Linked DNA regions of Homo sapiens: region 1 is linked to region 2. Evidence: fine-mapped expression QTL. Tissue or cell type: sun-exposed skin. Region 2 holds a variant in brackets; the other region holds the start of a gene. All regions are shown on one strand. Distances are from middle to middle.

Region 1 (8,091 bases), 210 kb before region 2:
TGATATCTCCTCGTGCTATCCCCAAACTGCCACTCTTAACTCTTGAAGTAAATAAATAATCTTTGCTGGCAGGACTATGCTGAATCTCCTTAGGCACTCTCTAATCAGATGTCCTAGGTCCTCCCAATTCTTAGACCTTTTATACCTGTTTTTCTCCTTCTCTTATTCCACTTAGTTTTTCAATTCATACAAAACCATATCCAGGCCATCACCAATCATTCTATACGACAAATGTTTCTTCTAACATCCCCACAAGATCTCCCTTCGGCTTAATCTCTCCCACTCTAGGTTCCCACGCCGCCCCTAATCCCACTTGAAGCAGCCCTGAGAAACATCGCCCATTCTCTCTCCATACCACCCCACAAAAATTTTCGCTGCCCCAACACTTCAACACTATTTTGTTTTATTTTTCTTATTAATATAAGAAGGCAGGAATGTCAGGCCTGAGCCCAAGCCAAGCCATCGCATCCCCTATGACTTGCACGTACACATCCAGATGGCCTGACGTAACTGAAGATCCACAAAAGAAGTAAAAATAGCCTTAACTGATGACATTCCACCATTGTGATTTGTTTCTGCCCCACCCTAACTGATCAATGTACTTTGTAATCTCCCCCACCCTTAAGAAGGTTCTTCGTAATTCTCCCCACCCTTGAGAATGTACTTTGTGAGATCCATCCCTGCCCGCAAAACATTGCTCTTAACTTCACCGCCTATCCCAAAACCTGTAAGAACTAATGATAATCCACCACCCTTTGCTGACTCTCTTTTCGGACTCAGCCTGCCTGCATCCAGGTGAAATAAACAGCCATGTTGCTCACACAAAGCCTGTTTGGTAGTCTCTTCACACGGACGCGCATGAAACCTATATCAAATCAAGCCTCTTAAGACACCAAAACACCGATTTCACCTAGTACAGAAGGAATGAGGGCCTGATAACTGCAGAAATTTAAACTTCTTCGGCTGGGCTGGGCGTGGTAGCTCAAGCCTGTAATCCCAACACTTTGGAGGGAGCTGAGGCAGGTGGCTCACTTGAGGTCAAGAGTTTGACAACAGCCTGGCCAACATGGTGAAACCCCATCTCTACTAAAAATACAAAAATGAGCCAGGTGTAGTGGCACATACCAGTAGTCCCAGCTACTTGGGAGGCTGAGGATGGAGAATTGCTTGCACCTAAGCAACGGAAGTTGCAGTGAGCCGAGATTGTGCCACTGCATTCCAGCCTGGGTGACAGTGCAAGACTCTGTCTCAAATAAATAAATAAATAAAATAAACTTCTTGGGCTGGAAATTGGAGACTTGGTAGAATCTGGTCTTAACTTCCCAGCCTTATCTTCCCTCATTCCCAAACACCTCTGTTACTGTGTGCCCCAAACAGGTTTGCTCTCTCCACATCACCATCTAGTGTTTTTTTTTTTCCAACTTTTCCCATTATTTAATGGCTAGCTCAAATGGAGTATCCTCAATGAATCATCTCTTCCCCCATCCCCAGTTCCCTAAAGAGAATGCCGGCGTTTTAGCACTGCCTTGTATCTTTTTTTTTTTTTTTTTTGGAGACGGAGTCTCGCTCTGTCACCGAGGCTGGAGTGCAGTGGCACAATCCCAGCTCACTGCAAGCTCCACCTCTCGGGTTCACACCATTCTCCTGCCTCAGCCTCCCGTGTAGCTGGGACTACAGGCGCCCGCCACTACGCCTGGCTATTTTTTTGTATTTTTTAGTAGAGACGGGGTTTCACTGTGTTAGCCAGGATGGTCTCGATCTCCTGACCTCGTGATCCACCCGCCTCGGCCTCCCAACGTGCTGGGATTACAGGAGAGTTCTTCATCCACTCCAGCATCACCTCCATCCAACTAAAGGCAAAATCTTCTTAAACTTCCTAACTCCTATAACACCCCACGTAGCAGGTACTCATTAAACATTGATTGATTGATCATGGTGGGACTTGAAAGAAGACTGAAGTCATCAAGAGATGGTTTGTGAGAAAAGAGAATCTGAGATGGGTTTTCAAGCATTTAGTTGAGGAAACGGGAGCAGGGCTTCCAGGTAAGGAGAGCAACGTGTATTGGTAAACCAAGAACATCAGACTGAGTAGAGCAGGAAAACGTAGAAGCCACAGAGAAAAAGGCCTGGAACAACCAAGGCCAGATTACAGGCAACAGTGGAATGATTTGATTCAACACAAGTGCGCTTCTGGGAGCAGAATGGACTGAGGAGAGGTGAGGACGGGAGAGACCTGGGTCTCTGGGCCAAGCAGAGGCTTCTGCAACAATTCAGGCAAACGTGGGGTGACAAGGACGCTGACTGAGACGATGCTGAACCCCAACTGCTGGTTTGTTCAACTGGTACAGTTCACATTAAGTCGTAACAACTGTGAAGCTTATGTCTCTACAGATACCATGTGACTCCCCCCCACCAAGTGTGTCCCTCTCATTTCATAATGTGACTCTAGGCTGGGTGCGGTAGCTCACGTGTGTAATCCCAGCGCTTTGTAAGGGAAAGGTGGGAGGATCACTTGAACTCGAGTTTGAGACCATCCTGGGCAACACAGCAAGACCTCATCTCTACTAAAAATCAAAAGAATTAGCCAAGCATGGTGGCGTGTGCCTATAGTCCCAGCTACTCAGGAGGCTGAGGTAGAAGACTTATTTGAGCACAGGGGTTCAAGGCTGCAGTGAGCTATGATCGCACCCCTGCACTCCAGCCTAGACAACAGCGCGCGAGACTCTGTCTCAAAAACAAGTAACAAAAACAAAATGTAACTCTAAATGTAGCCTATTAAACTCAGCTTAGGTCATTTAAATTATTCAATACCCATATTAATACCTTCAAAGCAAACTAATTCCACTCTGGTTATAGCAAGTTGGGCATTTCTGGGCAAGTGGTTTGACTGGAGTCAGGATGTCCTCTTTTTGTGAAATTATGGCAGTAGTGCCTGCTTTGCTAGAATACTTGGTAAACTAATTTAATGAATATCTGTAAAGTACTTTGAGCTCCTTGGAGAACACTTCCATATATAAAGAAGCCTTATGACCTGCCTGCAACTGCAGATTTTGCAAACGTGATCTTACTTTTTCTCTCTTTTGGGATATGCTCCCCTTTAAACTGAAGCTCAACCTCCTGAAGGGGGTTTCTTACTAGGAAAAATCAGACAATTTGAGGAAATAGCTATCACCTCCAAGATCCCGGAAGCAGTACTAAATAAGAGACCTCAGAACAAGGCAATACTAGGTATCTCACCTATCCCATTACCAGTCCAATTTCTCTCTCCACTTAAAGGAGGCTTCCAGGTCTAGCCTACAGGAAAGTTCACTTATTAACCCTCAGGCAGAGTACTACCTGCTAACCAGGTTAACACACATTTCCTTCGTAGCACTGTAATTCACAGTGCAATGACAGCAATACGCTTCTATAACTACAGCTTCAGACTGTGCTCCTCAGCCTTACTCAGAATAGGCTATCAACACTGACTCGTTAGGATATTCAAGGGGGTATATGTATGTGTGTGGGGGGGGAATTCCCGACACCGATTTCACCATGCTTCTGTGGTCACTGCAGGAAAAAGGTAGAGCTCTCTGTTCTCTATCATCGCTCTCTTTGGAATATTATTCTCACTTCAAGCATTCTGCCTGAGCGAAGCCGTCACTTCTCCAACACATGGTCACAATTCTGAAGCTGCCAGGCGACTGAACGCAGTCGGCAGCACCCACCACTACCGGAGACTCAGCCCCAATCCGAAGCTTCTCCCTTAGTCAGGGATTGGGGCGCTGGGTTCCTGGTGTCACCGCCGGGCGGCGACCCCACCACAATCTCCCCAAAGCGCCGAAGCATGTCAGCCCGAAGATCTTGGCTGTCGCCTTTCCCCGAGCCTGCGGTGCCCGACAGGAGCCCGAGTTCACGCCGCCGCGCGCCAGAGCAAGAGGACGCGCCGCAGCGAGGGAAGCGGGGGCCGGACTGGGGCCCGGCGCCCTGATAGGGAAGGGGCGTGATCGCAGGCTGCTCGCGGCGAGGGCGAGACCGGGCGTGGGCTGCCAAGAGGCGACGCCGTGGAGCCCGGGGAGGGGACGTGGGGGTGAAGACAGGGGCAGCCCAGCGGCTCGAGGGCAGGCAGAAACGGCCGCGGCTACTCACTGAGCCAGGACTCCAGGCTTTCCCCTTCCGCCTCCGCCATATTGCAGCCGCCCGGCCCCGCGGCTTCAAAACTCGCGAGAGTCTGCACGAGCTGAGACGGGGCGGGGCCTGCATGGGGTCCTGAGAGGAGTGAGTGCCGTCACCGAGGGCCGCGCCAGACTGCGACGGATACAGGGAGGGCAAGGGTTTCCTTTTGGCGCTCCCCTTTGGACCCCGGAGTGAAAAACTCTAACGTCCAGATCAGTGGAGAGAAACGCAGATTTAGGACCCTGAGGAGTCTTTTTCACCCGTTTCCCGTCACTCGCTCAGGCGCGCCGAGGGCAGTCCTTGTGGGGTCCTCGTGGCCAGCCAAGATGGCTGCCCCCGCAGTGAAGGTTGCCCGAGGATGGTCGGGCCTGGCGTTGGGCGTGCGGCGGGCTGTCTTGCAGCTTCCAGGGTGAGAGGGTGGCGAGCAGCGGCGGGGGGGCGCTGCGAGGAAGGAAGGGGGCCACAGGCAGGCCGCGTGGGCCCCTAGAGAGAGCATTGCCCTGGGGGCCGGAGTATCTGGATTCAAGCTTCTAAGTTAGCTGCGTGACCCTGCGCCAATCCGAAGGTTTAGTGACTACCTCTCGCCTAAGGAGTCTGGCTGATCTAGGGTTCTAACGCGGAGCTGAAAGTGCGGTTCAGCTAAAGAGCTCAGATCTGGGATCGCCTGTGAATTGGGATGGGTGTGTAGGCGCCAAGCCCATCCTTACCGTTAGCACTTGACCAGGAGGAGACTTTACCCGCCTGCTTGGGGAATGTCCTCCTACTTGGGACAAGGGCCTGAATTGTTGTGGCTCAGGTTTAGCTCGCGGTCTCCGCGCCGCTCCCCCTCGTCGGCGCGTTGGCAGTCATGCCTATTGTTAAGTCAAACCTACTCGCTTGTGGAGTCAGCTTTTGCCTGCCTCCTCCTTTCCCCCCCTCCCAGGCTAACTCAGGTGAGATGGAGCCGCTATAGTCCTGAATTCAAGGATCCCTTGATTGACAAGGAATATTATCGCAAGCCAGTGGAGGAGCTAACTGAGGAGGAGAAATATGTTCGGGAGCTCAAGAAGACTCAGCTCATCAAAGCTGCTCCAGCAGGGAAAACAAGTTCTGTGTTTGAAGACCCAGTCATCAGGTTAGATGGAAACAAACACTTGTTACATGGACTGGGACTATCCCAGGGAGGGTTTCTGGTGAGGATTCTGTGATACAGCCTTGGAGAGCTAAACGTGTTGCTTTTCTCTTTGAAGTAAATTCACCAACATGATGATGATAGGAGGAAACAAAGTACTGGCCAGATCCCTCATGATTCAGGTAAACAGCACTTCCCTCCTCAGTCATCTTTCTTGCCCCCCTACCCCGTAGCCTTGTACTTGGTACTTTCAGTGTAGCTTAAGAGCAAATGGATTCATGTATCTATTATTCAGATTAACTTCCCTGCATGTGTACGGGCTTTAATGAAGCCCTGTAAGAGTCAGCAACTGCCATTCCTTGGTGTTTCGGAAGTAAACACACAATTAAAAAAAAAGGAACAAATAAAAAATAAAACAACTGCCATTCCCCACCTCACCCCCCACCCCCTCCATGCCACAAATCTCAATCCACTCTTTCTGTCCTAGTCTAGCAAAGGGGGAGGCACTTAAAAACTTTGTTTTGGATGTGCTGTGAGAGGAGCTGCATTGCCAGCGCAGAACCAGAGGATGGGAGTAAAGGGCAAGGTACTAGCTTGGCTGGGTAAACCCTTTAGGGAGCCTGGGGCAGCCTCTTCCACCATATTCTTTTGCAGACTCTGGAAGCTGTGAAAAGGAAGCAGTTTGAGAAGTACCATGCCGCTTCTGCAGAGGAACAGGCAACCATCGAACGCAACCCCTACACCATCTTCCATCAAGCACTGAAAAACTGTGAGCCTATGATTGGGCTGGTACCCATCCTCAAGGGAGGCCGTTTCTACCAGGTGAATGAATGGCCAGGGCAAGAAAGCAGGGCCCTCCACATGTGAAACAAGATAGGTGGTGCTTGGGAGTTGGGTCAAGATTGATAGCTTTCTAGCTGGTGCAGTGGGATTGCACCTGTAATCTCAGCACTTTGGGAGCCTAATGCAGGATAGCTTGAGCTCAGGAGTTAAGAGACAGCAGGGCAACATAGGGAGATCCCGTCTCTACAAAAAAAACAAAAAAATTAGCCAGGTGTGGTGGTGTGCATCTGTGCTCCCAACTACTCAGGAGGCTGAGGTAGGAGGATCACTTGAGTCCAGGAGGTCAAGGCTGCAGTGAGTTATGATTACGCCCCTGCATTCCAGCCTGGGCAAGAGAGAGAAACCTTGTCTCAGAAAAAAAAAAAAAAAAAACGGCTGGGCACGGTGGCTCACACCTGTAATCCCAGCACTTTGGGAGGCCGAGGTGGATGGATTACCTGAGGTGGGGAGTTCGAGATCAACAAGGAGAAACCCTGTTTCTACTAACAATACAAAATTAGCCAGGTGTGGTGGCACATACCAGTAGTCCCAGCTACTTGGGAGGCTGAAGCAGGAGAATCGCTTGAACCCAGGATGCAGAGGTTGCAGTGAGCCGAGAGCACACCACCGCACTCCAGCCTGGCAACAGAGCAAGACGCCATCTCAAAAAAAAAAAAAAAAAAAGAATTGAGACTGTTACGGTCCACTCATCTGAGTCCTGTAGCGTAAAAATTATAGGCAGAAGGTGGAAGAGAGTGAAGAAGTATCTAAGTGACATCTGGGAGCCCACCTCCCTTCGCCTTCTTCTGTCAAGCATCCTGTGTGTCCTAACCTGTAAAATTCTCATGGCGAGGGACTATTCATATCCTGTCTTTGTATGCCAGTGTTTGGCATAGTGCTTGACCGATAACTGATGCTTCATCAGTGTTTGCTGAACAGTACTAGGTATCTCTTTCATAGCATTTAATTATATTTTATTGTCCTGAGTTTTCTTGTGTTCTCCTTTTTCAATATCAACTCCATGGGGTAGGGACTTCATTATTGTCTGCACTCTCGTGTCTGGCATGGTACTGACGCATAGTGAGGGCCTGACAAATGATTTTTGGACACGGGGTCTTGTTTTTGGTTTTCTTTAACTGTTTGTATAGGGTCTTTTTGTTTTTAACTTTTTTTTTTTTTTTTGAGATGGAGTTTCGCTTTTGTTGCCCAGACTGGAGTGCAGTGCTGTAATCTCAGCTCTCGGCTCACTGCAGCCTCCGCCTCCCGGGTTCAAGAGATTCTCCTGTCTCAGTCCCTGCCCACCCCAAGTAGCTGGGATTACAGGTGGCCGCCACCATGCCCAGCTAATTTTTTTGTATTTTTAGTAGAGACAGGGTTTTGCTGTGTCTGAAGACTGAAGGGGTCTTGTTTTTAGGTACCTATGGTCTGAGGTGGATTAGTCACCCCAGCTAATGGGGCTTTTCCTATTTGGTTCTTATAACAACTTGGTAGGACTACCATTTAGGAGGGAAAATGGCCAGTGCTTTTCTTCTTTTTCTTTTTCTTTTTTTTTGAGACGAAGTCTCGCTCTGTTGCCCAGGCTGGAGTGCAGTGGTGCATTCTTGGCTCACTGCAACCTCCGTCTCCTGGGTTCAAGCATTTCTACCTCAGCCTCCCAAGTAGCTGGGATTACAGGCGCCTGCCACCACGCCCAGCTAATTTTTGCATTTTAGTAGAGACGAGGTTTCACCACATTGGCCAGGCTGGTGTCGAAATCCTGACCTCAGGTAATCCACCTGCCTCAGCCTCCCAAAGTGCTGGAATTACAGGCGTGAACCATCGTGCCTGGCCTTCTTTTTTTTTTAATATATGGAGACAGGGTCTTGTTATATTGACGAGGCTGGTCTTGAACTCCTGGGCTCAAGCGATCCTCCTGCCTCAGCCTCCCAAAGTGCTGGGATTACAGGTGTGAACCACAGTGCCGGGAGAGGCCAGTGCTTAATTAGTATTTGCTGAATGAACGC
Region 2 (8,099 bases):
TTGAGGTACAGTGAGCTGTGATCGCACCACTGTACTCCAGGCTGGGCAATAGGGTGAGGCCTTGTCTCAAACAAACAAACAAACAAACCTGGGGCCTACTCAGAAACCCAGACTCTTCAGTGACTCCTCAGAGCCTCTCCATTTTGGCCCCTTATCCCTGTGTATTTTTTCATTTTCTTTCTTTCTTTCTTTCCTTCCTTTCTTTCTTTCCTTCCTTCCTTCCTTCCTTCCTTCCTTCCTTCCTTCCTTCCTTCCTTCCTTCCTTCTTTCTTTCTTTCTTTCTTTCTTTCTTTCCTCTTTTCTTTCTTTCTTGAGACGGAGTTTCACTCTTGTTGCCCAGGATGGAGTGCGATGGCATGATCTCAGCTCACTGCAACCTCCGCCTCCTGAGTTCATGCGATTCTCCTGCCTCAGCCTCCCAAGTAGCTGGGACTACAGGTGCAGTCGGCTGATTTTTGTATTTTTAGTGGAGATGGGGTTTCTCCATGTTGGTCAGGCTGGTCTTGAACTCCCGACCTCAGGTGATCCACCCACCTCAGCTTCCCAAAGTGCTGGGATTACAGGCATGAGCCACTGCACCCGGCTCTTTTTGTTGTTGTTGTTAGAGACAGGGTCTCACTCCGTTTCCCAGGCTGGAGTGTAGTGGCGTGATCATAGCTCCCTGCAGCCTTGAACTCCTGGTCTCAAGATCCTCCTGCGTCAGCCATATTCTCAGTCTTTTTCATTTTAGTCGTTCTAATGGGTGTGTATTGGTCTCTCGTTGTGGTTTTAAATTTTTTTGTAAGACAGGGTCTTGCTATGTTGCCCAGGCTAGTCTCCAACTCTTGGCCTCAAGTCATCCTCCCCCGTCAGCCTCCCAAAGTGCTGAAATTACAGGCGTGAGCCACCATGCCTGGCCTTCTCATTGTGGTTTTAATTTTTGTTTCCCAATAATTAATGTTGTTGACCATCTTTTCATATTCATATTGACTGTTTATATATCTTGTGAAATGTCTGTTCAAATCTCTGCCTGTTTATTATTTATTTATTTATTTTAAGACAAGTTCTCACTTTGTTGCCCAGGCTGGAGTGCAGTGGCGAGATCATGGCTCACTGCAACCTCCAACTCTTGAGCTCAAGTGATCCTCCTGCCTCAGCCTCCCAAGTAGCTAAGACTGCAGGTGTGTGCCAACATGCCTGGCTGAAATCTTTGCTCATTTTAAAATTGGGTTGTTGGTCTTGTTACTGAGCTATAAGAATTTTTATATATATATATATATATATATATTTTTTTTTAATCCCAAAGACTTCAAAACTACTTTTGCTTTTTGAGACGTGATTTTGGTATGTTGCTCAGGCTAGACTCAAACTCTTGGCCTCTAGTGATCTGTCTGCCTCAGCCTCCCAAAGTGCTAGGATTATAGGCATGAACCACTGTGCCCAACGTCAATTTTTTTATGGCATATTTTGAAGAGTGGAAATTTTTTTTATTTTTATGGAACAATTTATCAGTTGTTTTCTTTTATTTGTTTGTTTGTTTTTTAGAGGCAGGATCTTACTCTGTTGCCTAGACTGGAGTGAAGTGGCACAATCATAGTTCACTGTAACCTTCAACTCCTAGGCTCATGTGATTCCCCTACCTCAGCCTCACAAGTAGTTAGGACTACAGGCGTGCTCCACCAGACCTGGCTAAAGTTGCTGTCTTTTATAGTTTATGTTTTTTATGTTTTAAGAAATCTTTGCTTATCCCAAGTTATAAAGATTCCTGCCTCCACCCCTCCTGCATATTTTCTTCTGGAAGTATTATAGTTTTAACCTTTATGTTTAGATGTGTGATGCATTTTAAGTTAATTTTTGTATATGGTATGAAGTAAGGGTCAATATGTGTGAATCTAGTGCTAGACTCTCTGTTCTGTCCCATTGATTTGTATGCCTCTCCTTGTATCAGTACCACATGTTTTGATTACTGTAGCTGTATGTTAAATCTTCAAATCAGGTAGTGTAAGTCCTCAGAATTTGTTTCTCTTTTCAAAATTGTTTTGCCTATTCTTGGTCCTTTATCTTTCCATACAAATTTTAGAATCAGCTTGCCAATTTCTATGGAAGTCCCAGCTGGGACTTTCATTAACATTGTATTGAGAGGCTGGGCATGGTGGCTCATGCCTGTAATCCCAGCACTTTGGGAGGCCGAGGCAGGTGGGATCACCTGGGGTCAGGAGTTCAAGACCAGCCTGGCCAACATGGTGAAACCCCGTCTCTACTAAAAATGCAAAAAATTAGCCGGCCATGGTGGTGGACACCTGTAATCCCAGCTGTTCGGGAGGCTGAGGCAGGAGAATCACTTGAACCCAGGAGGCAGAGGTTGCAGTGAGCTGAGATTGTGCCATTGCACTCCAGCCTGGGCAACAGGAGTGGGAAAAAAAAAATTGTATTAAATCTATAAATTAGGGGATAATTGCCATCTTAATACTGAGCCTTCCAATCCATGAACATTGTATATTTCCCCATTTATTTAAGTCTTCTTTAATTTTTCTCAGCAGTGTACAGGTCTTACATATATTTTTATTAGAATAATTTCTAAAGGTTTTTTTTTTTTTTTGAGACTGAGTTTTGTTCTTGTCACCCAGGCTGGAGTGCAATGATGTGATCTCGGCTCACTGCAACCTCTGCCTCCCGGGTTCAAGTGATTCTCCTGCCTCAGCCTCCCAAGCAGCTGGGATTACAGGCACCCAAAACCACGCCTGGCTAATTTTTGTATTTTTAGTAGAGATGGGGTTTCACCATGTTGTCCAGGTTGGTCTGGAACTCCTGTCCTCAGGTGATCCACCCACCTCAGCCTCCCAAAGTGCTGGGGTTACAGGTGTGAGCCACCGTACCCAGCCATGCTGTTTTTATACTATTATAAATGATATTAAAATTTTTATTTTCTGATATTTGATTATAGTATATAGAAATATATTTATATTTTGTATTTTGACCCTATATCCTGCAGCTTTGCACCTTTATTTGTTTTAGTATCTTATTTGTAGAGTCCCTAATATTTTCTCCATATACAATTGATCTTGTCTTCTGCAAATAAGACAGTTTCACTTATTTTTTCCCATCATTATGCCATCCATTTCTTTTTCTTTTTTTTTTTTTTTTTTTTTTTGAGACGGAGTCTCGCTCTGTCGCCCAGGCCGGACTGCGGACTGCAGTGGCGCAATCTCGGCTCACTGCAAGCTCCGCTTCCCGGGTTCACGCCATTCTCCTGCCTCAGCCTCCCGAGTAGCTGGGACTACAGGCGCCCGCCACCGCGCCCGGCTAATTTTTTGTATTTTTAGTAGAGACGGGGTTTCACCTTGTTAGCCAGGATGGTCTCGATCTCCTGACCTCGTGATCCACCCGCCTCGGCCTCCCAAAGTGCTGGGATTACAGGCGTGAGCCACCGCGCCCGGCCCCATTTCTTTTTCTTCCACCTTGCTTTTGAGTCCTTATTCTTCACCTAAGTGGCACTTGGTTCATATTTTTTGCTTGCTGCTGATAGTAATGGCAGTTGTTTATTGAGTACCTACTATATGTCAAATATTATACTAGACCCCCTGCATATACTATTTTTCATAATTCTATAGCTCCTCTGTGAAATAGATATTGTCATTTCCATTCTATGAACAAAGACACTGAGGCTCAGAGGGACAAATAATTTGCCAAGGTCATTGGCGTTTGAGACATACTGGAGCTAGGATTTGAACCCGGGGATATTTGGCTTTGAATCCTGTGCTTTTTTTCACAATGGGCTAGGAGCAGAACTGGCCCTTTAAAGACCCTGCTACGGGTTTCAGATCAGACAGTTAAGAATGGCTGTCTCCCAGAATCCCATGTATGGAATGATGGGAAAACAGAGACTCTTAGAAAAATGTCCTGTTCCTGGCTGCCCTCTCTGTACTGCTGTGGTTCCAGCTGGCCACAGAGTGATTTTGCCTTTG[C/T]AGCGTTGGCAGAAGGAGTTAACAGGCACAGTCCCCATCTGGCTCCTGGTGTTTTTCCCTGTGTGGCAACGATCTCATCCAGCCCCTGCTGGGATGGGGTGTCATGGGGACCTTGAGCTGCAGTCGTAAGCAGGACTGGGGCAGCCTGAGTCAGACAGTGGCCTTGGGGAGGAGTGGATTTGGTCCCTCAGGATCCCATTTCAGTTGGCGACCAAAGACTGAATGTCACTGCATTGCAAGGCCACTTCCAGCGTCACTGTCTGTATCTGAGCCTTCGAGGCTGGCTCAGCTTTGAAAGGCAGGGGTGGAAGAGACGTGGTTGCTCAGCCTAGGGCACCAGCATGGGTGCCACCTTGAGAGGAATTGGGCGGGGTTTTGGAGTGGAGTTGGTGGCAGAACCTGGGCCTTCTGGTTGGGTCCTCCGGACACAGCTTTTATTATTTCTTGACAGCTTTTTTCTGGGTCAGTTCTGGGTTTCTGCCTGGCACCCCTTGACAAGGCTTGCTCCTGGCCCCCAAAAGAGCTGTCTTAGTCAGTAGGTTAGTGCTTTCTCCAAGAGGAGTCGCTTGGCATCAAACCAGATTGCTCAGTGTCACTCTTTACTCAAACACACCCTGGTCTGAGATCATTAGAGTGACGGCTGCCAGGACGGGAGGGTGAGGGCTGGTGAGGGTAGGTGGGGAGGTAGGGCAAACCTCATTTTCCAGGTAACCAGCCCGCTTTTGTCGGACCTGTTGTCAGATTGGGCTGCCCATCGTGTGTTCATCTGCTCAGGTGCCTGTTGAGCACTGCACTCAACCACGTGAGGGGCTGCGGGCTTGCACATGCTGGTGAGTGTGGCGTCTGACTGCCAGCACGTGGAAAGAAGTCAGTGCCTCGTTCTGGGGATGCAGTGGACATCCACCCTGCTGCTGTCCCAGCTGCCCCCTTATTATCCAACTTACATATCTAGATTTCACTTGATGTTAAGGCTAACCTTAACCCTAAATTTTTTTTTTTTTTTTTTGAGACCGAGTCTCACTTTGTCGCCCGACTGGAGTGCAGTGGCGCAATCTCAGCTCACTGGAACCTCTGCCTCCCAGGCTCAAGTGATTCTCCTGCCTCAGCCTCCTGAGTAGCTGGGATTACAGGCGCCCACCACCACGCCTGGCTAATTTTTGTATTTTTAGTAGAGATGGGGTTTCATCATATTGGCCAGGCTGGTCTGGAACTCCTGACCTCAAGTGATCTGCCTGCCTCGGCCTCCCAAAGTGCTGGGATTGCAGGCGTGAGCCACTGTGCTCGGCCTTAACCCTAAATTTTTAAAATGCTGACTGGGTGTAGTGGCTCATGCCTGAAATCTCAGCACTTTGAGAAGCCGAGGCGGGCAGATCACTTGAGGTCAGGAGCTCATGACCAGCCTGAGCAACATAGCAAGACCCCATCTCTACCAAAGAAGTAGTGATAATAAATAAAAATGCCAATAAATCCTTTGGGAGGCCGAGGTGGGTGGATCACCTGAGGTCGGGAGTTTGAGACGAGCCTGACCAACATGGTGAAACCCCGTCTCTAGTAAAAATACAAAAATTAGCTGGGCGTGGTGGCACATGCCTGTAATCCCAGCTACTCAGGAGTCTGAGGCAGGAGAATCGCTTGAACCCAGGAGGCAGAGGTTGCAGTGAGCCGAGATCATGCCATTGTGCTCCATCCTGGGCAATAAGAGTGAAACTCCGTCTCAAACAAAAAAAGCCAATAAACCAAGGCTTTTCCTGCATGCTGTAATTCAGTGATAAACAGAGTACATATGGAACAAAACACAGTGTGCCTTTGAAAATGAAGGTTGAGGCTGGGCACAGTGATTCACGCCTGTAGCCTGTAGTCCCAGAACTTTTAAGAGGCTGAGGTGGGGAGGATTGCTTGAGGCCAGGAGGTCAAGACCAACCTGGGCAACATAGCAAGACCCCTTCTCCACACAAAATTAAAAAAAATAATAATAGGCTGGGCGTGGTGGCTCATGCTTGTAATCCCAGTACTTTGAGAGGCCGAGGCAGGTGGATCACTTGAGGTCAGGAGTTCAAGACCAGCCTGGCTGAGCATGGTGGCTCACGCCTGTAATCCCAGCACTTTGGGAGGCCAAGACAGGCGGATCATGAGGTCAGGAGATCGAGACCATCCTGGCTAACACGGTGAAACCCCATCTCTACTAAAAATACAAAAAATTAGCCGGGCGTGGTGGCGGGCGCCTGTAGTCCCAGCTACACAGGAGGCTGAGGCAGGAGAATGGCGTGAACCCGGGAGGTGGAGCTTGCAGTGAGCCGAGATCGCGCCACTGCACTCCAGCCTGGGCGACAGAGCGAGACTCTGTCTCAAAAAAAAAAAAAAGTCCAGCCTGACCAACATGGTGAAACCCTGTCTCAACTAAAAGTACAAAAATTAGCCGGGGATGCTGGTGCATGCCTGTAATCCCAGCTACTTGAGGGGCTGAGACAGGAGAATCACTTGAGCCCAGGAAGTGGAGGTTGCAGTAAGCAAAGGTTGCGCCACTGCACTCCAGCCTGGGCAACAGAGCGAGACTCTGTCTCAAAATAATAATAATAATAATAATAATAAAGAAAATGAAGGTCAGGCGCGGTGGCTCACGCCTGTAATCCCAACACTTTGGGAGGCTGAGGCGGGTGGATCACAAGGTCAGGAGTTCAAGACCAGCCTGGCCAATATGGTGAAACCCCGTCTTTACTAAAAATACAAAAATTAGCCGGGCGTGGTGGCAAGTGCCTGTGATCCCAGCTACTTGGGAGGCTGCAGCAGGGAATTGCTGGAACCCAGGAGGTGGAGGTTGCAACAATGAGCCAAGATCGGGTCATAGCACTCCAGCCTGGGCAACAGAGTGAGAATCCGTCTCAAAAAAAAAAAAAAAAGAAAGAAAGAAAGAAAGAAAATGAAGGGTGAAAGAGAGAAAGTTTGTACCCCTCCAGAATCCTCTCTGTAGCCCTCTCCCTCCTGGATTCAGAGAGTGGAATTCATCTAGAGCTGACTGCCTGGGGGAAGCTCTGCTGCTCGATGAGGCTGACTCTGTCTGATGGTCAGTGAGTTCAGTACTTTTCCGCGTACCATACTGTGGTTTAGATGATACTATTATGTTGGGTGGCTGAGGCGGGCAGATCACTTGAGGTCAGGAGTTTGAGACCAGCCTGGCTAACATGGCAAAACCCTGTCTCTACTGAAAAATACAAAATTAGCTGGGCATGGTGATGCACGCCTGTCATCCCAGCTACTCGGAAGCAAGAGAATCGCTTGAACCCAGGAGACAGAGTTTGCAGTGAGCCGAGATCGCGCCACTGCACTCCAGCCTGGGCGACAGAGTGAGACTCCGTCTCAAAAAAAAAAAAAAATGATGCTGTTGTGTTTCACAGTAGCTGCCTGTTCCAGCAACCTGAGTGATTTCTTTCTTCTTTTTCCCCAGATGTTGTGACTGTGACAGACTCACTGGGGTTTGTACATGCTGGGGAGGAGCCTTCCTTTCAGGGGTGACCACATTCATCTGGGCATGCCTGCAGTACTCTTGGCCCATGGACCTGAAGGAGAAGCACCTGGTAGGCCATATCCTATTACCTTATAGGTATTGTCTGTGTGTCTCTGTTGAACTCTTTCCTACTTGTTTTTGCCTGGGAGATCCTTAACTGGGGGCTTTAAACAAAAGTTGAGAGAGGAGGCAAGGCTCTGAGTCTTGGGGGATGCGACTGTGACCTCTTGGCTGGAAAGCACAGACTCACAGAGCTATGAATAAAGGATGAAGGTGGACCTATTAACACAACCGCATGGGAGCAGGGTTTCTGATTTAGGCTGGCTCCAAGCCAGTCTTCCACTTCTTGCCCAGGGGTGTGCAATTTAGTTTGTTTGCCCTTTGCTAGGGCGATGTCCTAACCTGCTGAGCCATGCTGAGGGCTATTGGGCACCTCCCTGTGGTTAGAGAAGAGCGCCCCAATCAGACTTCAAACACAGCTGCCTAATCAGCCGGTGGTGAGCAGCCAGGTGGCCTGGGCCAGCCATAAGATTGGTCTTCTCCTCCCAGCCTGGTTTGGCCCAGCCTCCATGTATACTATCTTTGGATGGAGGTAGAGTTGTCAATCAGAAAACTCCTCTCCCTTGACAAAGACTGCCCCAGAGGAAGTCCTT

What was found. PIP is the estimated chance that this variant, and not a neighbour inherited with it, causes the effect.
Region 1: MRPS7 starts here. The variant in region 2 is fine-mapped to the expression of MRPS7 in sun-exposed skin (GTEx, PIP 0.98).

What each region holds. Positions count from the first base shown.
Region 1 is chr17:75,257,420-75,265,510 of GRCh38, forward strand. It overlaps MRPS7 (mitochondrial ribosomal protein S7), which reads left to right and starts at 4,460. Exons shown (of 5, transcript NM_015971.4): 1 at 4,460-4,564; 2 at 5,078-5,269; 3 at 5,385-5,448; 4 at 5,921-6,088. The coding sequence starts at 4,482. It overlaps GGA3 (golgi associated, gamma adaptin ear containing, ARF binding protein 3), which reads right to left and starts at 4,187. Exons shown (of 17, transcript NM_138619.4): 1 at 4,129-4,187. The coding sequence starts at 4,168. RefSeq lists enhancers at 3,593-3,692, 4,163-4,572, 4,369-5,246.
Region 2 is chr17:75,464,414-75,472,512 of GRCh38, forward strand. It overlaps TMEM94 (transmembrane protein 94), which reads left to right. Exons shown (of 32, transcript NM_014738.6): 2 at 7,387-7,516. The coding sequence starts at 7,493. Among named protein-coding and RNA genes, the nearest start is that of TMEM94, 12 kb to the left of the region's middle. RefSeq lists silencers at 4,266-4,434, 7,814-7,903. The variant C/T (reference allele first, on the strand shown) is at 3,945.